3 separate regions of the Homo sapiens genome follow, and all the other regions are reported to be linked to region 3. The links are microRNA targets in miRTarBase. Many come from high-throughput screens and were not tested one by one. Region 3 holds a microRNA gene; each other region holds the end of a gene's coding sequence.
Evidence for each region. The annotated mature microRNA hsa-miR-3713 reads GGUAUCCGUUUGGGGAUGGU and lies in region 3 at 2,074-2,093, opposite strand. An mRNA with a match to its seed (bases 2 to 7 or 8) in the 3' UTR can be bound and repressed. Matches are read on the target gene's strand: a 7mer-m8 pairs with bases 2 to 8, a 7mer-A1 pairs with bases 2 to 7 and ends in A, and an 8mer does both.

Region 1 (3,232 bases), not on the chromosome of region 3:
ATGCATGGTTCATGAAGGCATAGAGATTAAGTGCTGGGATTACAGGCACGAGCCACTGAATCTGGCCATAGTTGAATTCTTAACCACAGTGAGCTAACTCCTTTCATGGTGGAAAATTTTAACTGTCTTAGATGAAAGTTTTAACTTAAGTATTTACTCCTCTTTCTTTCTTTCTTTTTTTAAACAGAGAAAATACGGTACATGTCCCCATGGAGGATATGGCTTGGGCTTGGAACGATTCTTAACGTGGATTCTGAATAGGTATCACATCCGAGACGTGTGCTTATACCCTCGATTTGTCCAGCGTTGCACGCCATAACCATTTTCTCCAGAAGCGTGGAGGAAAGATTATGAAAGGAACAGGCTCTTTAAAAAAGAAAACAAAAAGCCAGAATCTTCCTTTTTTTGTTTCATTGGGGTTTCTCTTTCTGTTTTTCTTTCTACTACCATAAAAACTATCTCAAATCACCTGAACATCAAGTGATATTAAGGTTGTCATCTTAAGAAAAAATATCCATTTTTTTCTTAAGTTCGGGAAACAAAGTTCGGGGAAAATACCTGGCATGAAACTGTAGTTAGGGATACATTTCAGCATTTTACTCACTTTATCCAAGTTATTCATTTTATTCAAGTTATATGTATGTATAATTCAACAATTTTAGATTATGGTGTAAGATACTCCAGTAACTTATCTTTCTGTCCTTTTAAGTGTACCTTGAATTCTTTGATTTATTTTATTGCATCAATGAATTAAAACAAAAATCTTGGGGGAAGAAATTGGCAATATCGTATAAAAATCTGCTCATATTAGAACACAGTATAATTCAGCAGTAAACACTAGAATCAAATGAATAGCCTTTTGTATCAGTTATTAATCTTTTCTAACTCTGCTTAGCTGCTAATAATCCTGAGGCATAGAAATTGAAGAATTTGTAAAAATAGAATTGCCTTAAAGGATTTGAAGTAAGAACATAATTTTGGGGAGAGTTTTTTAGTGATTCACAGTATCCCTCTTAGCATTAATTTAAGGTAAAGAGGCAGATTGATTTTCCCTCTTTCCTGGTAATTCCTAAGTAATTAAGAATAAATAAGTTCCAAAAGAAATTGTAGCTGGAATCTTAATAACAATTGTGAGTGGCTGTTTGAGTTGCCCCCACCATGTCCTTAGATCTAATCTGTGCTACCTTATTAACTCACAGCAGGCTTACTGAATGGCTTCATTTCAGATTTAGTTGATTTCTCCACCAAATGCATGTCATGTATTCTCAATAGGCTGTATTCCCAGCAGTCAATAAATGAACACCCGTAAAAACTCTTTGCTGGCTTAATTTTCTTAAAGCTAAACATCTCTTTGTCACATTCGTTCATGCTTTTGCAATTATTTTATCTTTTTTATGATGTATATATGTGAAATTAAGTACTACTAAATTTAGTAGATATTGCTAACGTTATATGGTAATGAGAACGAATGATTTTTTAACGTTAGATATGTGGGTCATGGTTAAATCTTTTTTGTAATCTTTTTTGTGTTACTGTTGGACACATTAGATTTTATCCTGTTTTGCAATTAAGTGAAATGACAGGTCAAAATGAGGCATTTAGGCTGGGTGCAGTGGCTCACACCTGTAATCCCTCCACTTTGGGAGACCAAGGCGGGCAGATCATCTGAAGTCAGGAGTTCAAGACCAGCCTGAGCAACATGGTAAAACCCCATCTCTACAAAAATAAAAAAGTTAGCCAGGCATGATGGCAGGTGCCTGTAATCCCAGCTACCCAGGAGGCTGAGGCAAGAGAATTGCTTGAACCCCGGAGGCAGAGGTTGCAGTGAGCCAAGATTGCACCATTGCACTCCAGCCTGGGCTATAGAGCGAGACTGTCTCAAAAAAAAAAAAAAAAACAAAGGAAGAAATGATGCATTTATAATCTATTCAGCCTGCATCTTTAAATAAAAAATACTTGGAAGAGTGTGAATGAGCTGTAGATGACTTCAACTAAGCAATTCATTTTATCAGAATTAAAGTGAAGAGGTTAGGCTCAGTTAGCCTTAATTTTAATGGTGTAAACAGGTCAAAGTTTTAAAATATTAAAGGAGAGCCAGGATATGGATAAGGGAGTTAAGGTGGTGACCTCAGGCCGAGAGACTGAGCACGGTGAGCAGCAAACCTCACGCGTGTGGACTTCACTCCCTTCGCTGTGTAGTTACTACCCTAATTCAGGTGTCACAGATGCCATCCCGCATTCCCATGGCTAGCTCACAAACACCCCTGCCCTCTCAGGACTTCCATCACGTGACTTTCTCCTCCCTGAAACTCTCTGCTTTTCATACCAAAAACCCCTCCACCTTTGGCACTTGTGTGACCTGCTCAGTTTTGGAGACAAACAGGAGGCTAATTCAATTGCTTAAATATCAACTTGCCCTCTTAAATGTCCTTCAGCCATTTCAAGCGACCCAGTTTCCCACCTTGCCGTTCAGCCCCTGCCACCTTGCTGCCTCGTAATGGTTCCTAAAAATGTTGTCCTTAATACGTAGAGTAGTTCAACTCTGTGAAAAGCAATCTTGGCAGCACAGTGGGATCATTTGGGGACCTTAAAAATAATGGTGTTTGGGCCTTACCCCAGGCCAGTTGAATCTGAATTTCAGAAATGGGACCAGGGTATTTTTTAAAAGCTCCCCAGGGGAGGTTGTTGCACAGTGAGGTTGACAGTCGCCAGGTGGCTTCCTCCTACTTCTAAACTCAACCTTAAGCCTCTCTTATTATTGCTGTAGGTTCTCTATTGATTTTGTATTAATCTCTGTAGTTGAAATGGGAACACTGAGGGCTGAGAAACTTCAAAGCTTGAATTTTGAATTGCCATAGAATAAGTATATTTCATCCAGCCCTTCTGGGAAAAAAGGGATGTCATGATATACAAATACTGCAATTTCTAGTATTTGGAAATTGCTGGTTAATGACTCAGTTTCTTATGCTGAAAAGTTTCCTTCTGCCTTATGGATCATAACCAATGTGATGATCAGGTGAAGAACATCTTTGAAGAGATATTGATAAACTTTGTTTGTGGGACAAAGACTAGTTTCTACAGTCAAAATCAAGTTTGTATTGGATAAAACTTGTCTTAGTACCCCAACTTACAGAAATGAAGGTGTTCAAAAGTTTTAGCTTTTTTTCAGTATTTACCTCCAAATTGCTAAATAACATGCTTATATTACTTTATTGATTTTTCAGTTTTAGGC
Region 2 (3,257 bases), not on the chromosome of region 3:
GTTCAAGTGATTCTTGTACCTCAGCCTCCCAAGTAGCTGGGACTACAAGTGTGCGTCACCACACCTGGCTAATTTTTGTATATATATATATATATTTTTTTTTTTTTTTTTTTTTTAAATTTTGGAGAAAGAGTCTTGCTCTGTCGCCCATGTTGGAGTGTAGTAGTGCAATCTCAGCTCACTGCAACCTGCACCTCCTGGGTTCAGGTGATTCTCCCACCTCAGCTTCCCAAATAGCCAGGATTACAGGCACCCATAACCAACGCCCAGCTAATTTTTGCATTTTTAGTACAGACGGGGTTTCACCATTTTGGCCAAGCTGGTCTTGAACTCCTGACCTCAGGTGATCCACCTGCCTTAGCCTCCCAAGGTGCTGGGATTACAGGTGTGAGCTACTGCACCCAAATAAGAGTATATATATATATATATATTTTTTTTTTTTTTTTTTTTTTTTTTTTTCCTGAGACGGAGTCTTGCTCTGTCACCCAGGCTGGAGTGCAGTGGCGTGATCTCGGCTCACTGCAAGCTCCGCCTCCCAGGTTCACGCCGTTCTCCTGCCTCAGCCTCCCAAGTAGCTGGGACTACAGGCGCCCGCACCACGCCAGGCTAGTTTTTTGTTATTTTTAGTAGAGATGGGGTTTCACTGTGTTAGCCAGGATGGTCTCGATCTCCTGACATTGTGATCAGCCCGCTTCGGCCTCCCAAAGTGCTGGGACTACAGGCGTGAGCCACCACGCCCGGCTAAGAGCTTATATTCTTAAATTTTGAGTAATTAAAGGGCTCTGGTCAACTGCTTGAGATTTAGTGTCTAAGGATACCTATTTAAAATTAGAGCACAGCTTTTGTCCAATAAAATGCAATATATCTAATTGAACTGACACCGATATCTAGTTAACCTGCCTTCAACAGGCTTTCATACCTGTTACTATGTCACCTTTGGCTGTTTCCAAAATTAGCTTTACTTTCCAGAGACTAAATCCTGTATTAAAAAACAACTGTAGCTGGGCATGGTGGCTCATGCCTGTAATCCCAATGCTTTGGGAGGCCAAGGCAGGATTGCTCAAGGCCAGAAGTTCGAGATCAGTCTGGGCAAAATTGGTTGAGAGTCTATCTCTACCAAAAAAAAAAAAATTAGCTAAGCATGGTGGCATGCAACTGTAAGTCCTAGCTTCACAGAAGGCTGAGGTGGGAAGATCCCTTGAGCCCAGGAATTTGAGGATATAGTGATCTGATTGTGCCACTGCCCTCCAGCCTGGGCAACCAGAATGAGGCCCTGTCTCTTGAAAGAAACAACTTTTAAGAGTTCTCTAAGCTTTCAAATAACAAGCAGTTTTGGTGATTTCAAGAGACCTTTTTTCAGGAATTTTTGAATTAAATCACCCAAATAAAAACAGGACCTGTTGTTTTTAGAAATGGAGTCTCTATGTTGCCCAGGTTGGTCTGGAACTCCTGGGCTCAAGTGATCCTCTTGCCTCAGCCTCCCTCAGTGCTGGGATTACAGGTATAAGCCACCGCACTGGGTCTCTTTTTTATTTTTTTAGTTGTTAAGTGGCTAATTTCATTATAGTCTTGCCTAAAGATGGGCTGGGACCAGAGAAGTTTATGAGGTTGTCACTGATAACTTCCCACCAGAGATCGTTCACCCTGTCTCAACCAGACAAAATAACACAAGTCAGGGGGCGCTGGTTAGATCAGGATTTCTTTTTATTCCTCGTTGGTTTAAAATGGCTAATCAGAATAAAAAATAAAAGGGCCTCTTTGTGGAGGCTGGGATCTCCCCTATTTAGAGGTTAGAACCCAGGTATCCCCTCTACCCAGCACCATAGTGAGGTGGGCTGAGGGGTAACCCCCAAGGGACAATCGGAGGGGCCTAGGCCTGCCACTCCTTCTCTCTATCCCCCGTTTTTGGCATGTGATGAAAAATATTGCTTTTTGGATTCTTCTCTCCTGGCCTTGGATTTTAAAATCAAGTTAACTGTGTAAGCTAGGGGAGGCTCCAAGGGGCCAGTAGGAGCACACTCTAATCCCTCTCCCCCAAGGAGGGGATTATCCAATATTGTTTGAGCTAGGCCAAGTTATTTTCCTGATCTCCCACCACCACCAGTGTCTTGAAGTTTTGACCCCTTTCCTAGGGAAACTAAATGCCAATGAGCCTAGAAAACTAATTCTCCTCTCCAAGTCCTTCCCTCTTGTGACCAAAATTCCAGACTCACCTCTCCCCAGGCTTCTTCCTAATCACACTTAGCACCAGCAGAGGATGCTATTTCCGTAGTTAGTAACTGGGACAAATGAGAGGGAACCACAGGAAAAAGACTGACGTCTCCCCTCTTTTCCTGCTGGTCTGAGGAATGGGAAGAGTAAGATCCCCCTCCGTATATGTATCCCTCCCTCATTTTCCCATCCCAGGATAGATATATAATTTCTTTGATATTTATAATATATATATATATATATTATATGTACACACACACCTGGTAACGCAGAAGAGGAAAAAAATAGAATCCGTAACAATAATAAAAAAAATTATTTCTGGTTTAAAAATGATCTGGTTCCCTCCAGGGCGAGCAATTGCACAAATGTCCACTGAGTCTGGTCCAGGGATCAAGGAAGGGAAGGTCTTAAAAGATAAAAGGGGGGGTTGCTACCCCAGTCTCAGGGCCCCAACTCTCCGACTCCCCAAGCCTACTGCATTTTAGAAAACACTCCTCATCCTCTTGGAATCGGTGGTTTAAAAAATGTCCATGCACGGGAGGGGAGCCCCTTGAGGGAAGGAAGGTGGCCACCTGGGGCCCTTTGGTGTAGGCGCAGAGGCGTTGGGGAGGGGAGGTGCCGAAGGCTCACACCGAAATCTCATAGGTGGTACCACCAACCCCTGACACCTTCTTGACTCCTCCCCTCGTGGGGCTACTGAGAGGTGGCTGGCCTGGGCCAGGGGAGGCTGAGCCTAAGCTCTTGGGCTGCCCGTTGGATTTGCTGTAGGTGGTCTTCAGCTGTACTTCATCTCTGGAAAGAAGAGACAAGACGTAGGTGTCAGGAAATGGGACAGAAAACATTGGAAAGGGAGACAGTTTCAAAGGTTCAGAGAAAAAAATGATGTTCTTTTCTATATCCATACTTTCTTACCCAAACATTCCCCTTTATTGCCCTGCTTAAAATAAGCCTGATTCCCAATCTCTCCTATGTACTACTACTCTCTAGTAACAGCTATCACATGTACTTACTCCCAAGCAAATACTTTTAGGAAGATAGCATTATGG
Region 3 (3,257 bases):
TAGAAACACATCAAAATAGAACCTCTTTAAAGCGTAAATCTCACAGGACCTATAAAACAAAAATACAATTTAAAGACAAACAAGTTATACAGGCAACCAACAGCACAACAAATGGGATAGTACCTCACATCTCAATACTCACGTTGAATGTAAATGGCCTAAATGCTCCACTCAAAAGATACAGAATTGCAGAATGGGTAAGAATTCACTAACCAAGCGTCTGCTGACTTCAAGAGACTCACCTAACTCATAAGGACTCACATAAACTTAAGGTAAAGGGGTAGAAAAAGACATTCCATGCAAATGGAAACCAAAAGCGAATAGGAGTAGCTATTCTTATATCAGACAAAGCAAACTTCAAAGCAACAGCGATTGAAAAAGACAAAGAGGGACATTATATAATGATGAAAGATGTTGTACAACAGGAAAATATCACAATCCTAAACATATATGCACCTAACACTGGAGCTCCCAAATTTATAAAACAACTACTGCTACCTAAGAAATAAGAGAGACAGGGCCGGGCGCGGTGGCTCACGCCTGTAATCCCAGCACTTTGGGAGGCTGAGGCAGGCAGATCACGAGGTCAGGAGATCAAGACCATTCTGGCTAACACGGTGAAACCCCGTCTCTACTAAAAAATACAAAAAATTAGCCAGGCATGGTGGTGGGCGCTTGTAGTCCCAGCTACTCGGGAGGCTGAGGCAGGAGAATGGTGTGAACCTGGGAGGCAGAGCTTGCAGTGAGCTGAGATTGTGCCACTGCACTGCAGCCTGGGCGACAGAGCAAGACTCTGTCTTAAAAAAAAAAAAAGAAAAGAAAAAGAAATGAGAAAGACAGTAGCACAGTAATAGTGGGGGACTTCAGTACTCCACTGACAGCACTAGGCAGGTCATCAAGACAGAAAGTCAACAAGGAAACCATGTATTTAAACTATATCCTAGAACAAAGGGACTTAACAGATATTTCTACCCAACAGCCACAGAATATACATTCTATTAATCAGTTGTATGGAAATTTATCCAATGTAGACCATATGATAGGCCACAAAACAAGTCTCAATAAATTTAAGAAAACTGAAATTATATCATGTACTCTGTCAGACCACAGTGGAATAAAATTGGATATCAACTCCAAAAGGAATTTTCAAAACCATGCAAATACATGGAAATTAAATAACCTGCTCCTGAATGATCATTGGGTCAACAATGAAATCAAGATGGAAATTTAAATATTCTTTGAACTGAACAATAACAGTGACACAGCCTATCAAAATCTCTGGGATACAGCAAAGAGGAAAGTTGTTCATAGTCTTAAATGCCTTCATCAAAAAGTCTGAAAGAGCACAAATAGACAATCTAAGATCACACCTCAATGAACTAGAGAAACAAGAACAAACCAAACCCAAACCCAGCAGAAGAAAAGAAATAACCAAGATCAGAGCAGAACTAAATGAAATAGAAACCAAAAAATAAATACAACAGATAAATGAAACAAAAAGCTGATTCTTTGAAAAGATAAATAAAATCAACAGACCATTCTATTGATTGGGAAGATCCAAATAAGCTCAATTATAAAACGGGAGATATTACAACTGACACCACAGAAATACAAAAGATCATTCAAGGGTACTATGAACACCTTTACGTTCATAAACTAGAAAACCTAGAGGAGATGGATAAATTTCTGAAAAGATACAACCCTCCTAGCTTAAATCAGGAAGAATTAGGAAGCCTGAACAGACCAATAACAAGCAGTGAGATTTAATGATAATTTAAAAATTATCAACAACAACAAAAAAAAATCCAGGACCAGACAGTTTCACAGCTGAATTCTATCAGGCATTCAAAGAAGAATTGGTACCAATTCTACTGACACTATTCCACGAGATAGAGAAAGAGGGAATCCTCCCTAAATCATTCTATGAAGCCAGTATCACCCTAATACCAAAACCAGGAAAGAACATAAAAAAAAAAGAAAACTACAGACAAATATCCCTGATGAAGAGACCAATATCCCTGATATTTAGTAGACTTGAGCATCTGATTTTGGTATCCATCTGGGGATAGTGAAACCATCCCCAAACGGATACCAAGGATAACTGTATATGTAATATACACACACACATTTATACACACATATATATGTATGCATATGTATATACATTCATTTATTTATTTTCTAGCTCTGTTCATTGAAGAGGCATGAAAAGAATGCCCAACTCAGTAGCAAAGAGCATCTCTAGTGCTCACTGATTTGGGGTTTGAAATATCTTTTCTCAGTAAAAGAAACAAGAGCTTCTTGGGGAAATGGCTAATTCCTGATCTGAATGTCTAAATAAAGCCCTAAATTTATTTAATTAATTCCAGATATGAATGTCTCAAAATAGCTCTAAATTTAGACCATGTACCTTCCAAATAGAGGATATGAAAGGTTAATTAATTTATGTCTTCCTATCCATTATGCTAAAGAACAATCTTAGTTCCTAAATGGACCAAGTATCTTTTTTTACACTTTTACAAATCTTCTAAATGATCCTAGTGGACCACCCCACCACCCCATGCAAACTTAACTATGATAAAAGTTAGGAATTCTGGGAGAGATACTTTTACATTTCATATTTACCAATGACAGACTTGAGCTTAGAGTTGCTGAAATTTGTTCCAGTTTTAAGAAGAAAATATTGATCTTACAGCATTATTCACAAAACCATTTACCTGACAGATACTTCTCATATTCCTAGGTTGGGAGATACAATGCCTTCACTTCTTCTTTTCATGCTAGAAAAATTATCTGCCAGAAGGAATCCAAATAAAACTTTCTGTTGTTAAAAACTACACTCTCTAAGCAGCTCCTGTTTTTGCACTGTGAGGAAAATATAGCTCTCAGAGCTTGACTTCTCTGACATTCTATAATTATTTATAGTATGAATTAAAATCTAGTGCTTTTTTCTTTACAGGGGCTATTTTATTTGTTGTACTTCTGTGAAGGCAGGGAATGAGACAGGGGTGTAGCTCAAATTACCAAAGCATCCCCTTGATTTGGCATTCTTTCTTGAAGGATAGGTTCAGAATTGATTTACCTCAGGGTGAAATACAAGCCTCTTGTATTCTGTGAATTAAAATGGTCCTTGTGCCTCCCTCAGTACTGCTGATTTTCAGTCAAATGTCAGCATTCTTGTTAAGAATAGTGCTAGATTCATATATATCTGTTGCTATGGCTGCATATTTAGTTACATGGTATGCAGACATTAGCCA

Region 1: the mRNA of NARS1 is a reported target of hsa-miR-3713. Seed matches in the 3' UTR shown: 7mer-A1 at 580-586.
Region 2: the mRNA of ZDHHC5 is a reported target of hsa-miR-3713. Seed matches in the 3' UTR shown: 7mer-A1 at 2,378-2,384.

Annotation. Positions count from the first base shown.
Region 1 is chr18:57,598,739-57,601,970 of GRCh38, reverse strand. NARS1 (asparaginyl-tRNA synthetase 1) reads left to right here. Exons shown (of 14, transcript NM_004539.4): 14 at 188-1,315. The coding sequence ends at 319. Among named protein-coding and RNA genes, the nearest start is that of FECH, 14 kb to the right of the region's middle.
Region 2 is chr11:57,699,612-57,702,868 of GRCh38, reverse strand. It overlaps ZDHHC5 (zDHHC palmitoyltransferase 5), which reads right to left. Exons shown (of 12, transcript NM_015457.3): 12 at 1,687-3,003. The coding sequence ends at 2,838. Among named protein-coding and RNA genes, the nearest start is that of MED19, 11 kb to the left of the region's middle.
Region 3 is chr15:76,585,483-76,588,739 of GRCh38, reverse strand. It overlaps MIR3713 (microRNA 3713), which reads right to left and starts at 2,093; the gene lies at 2,049-2,093. The region is part of intron 22 of SCAPER (S-phase cyclin A associated protein in the ER); the gene reads left to right.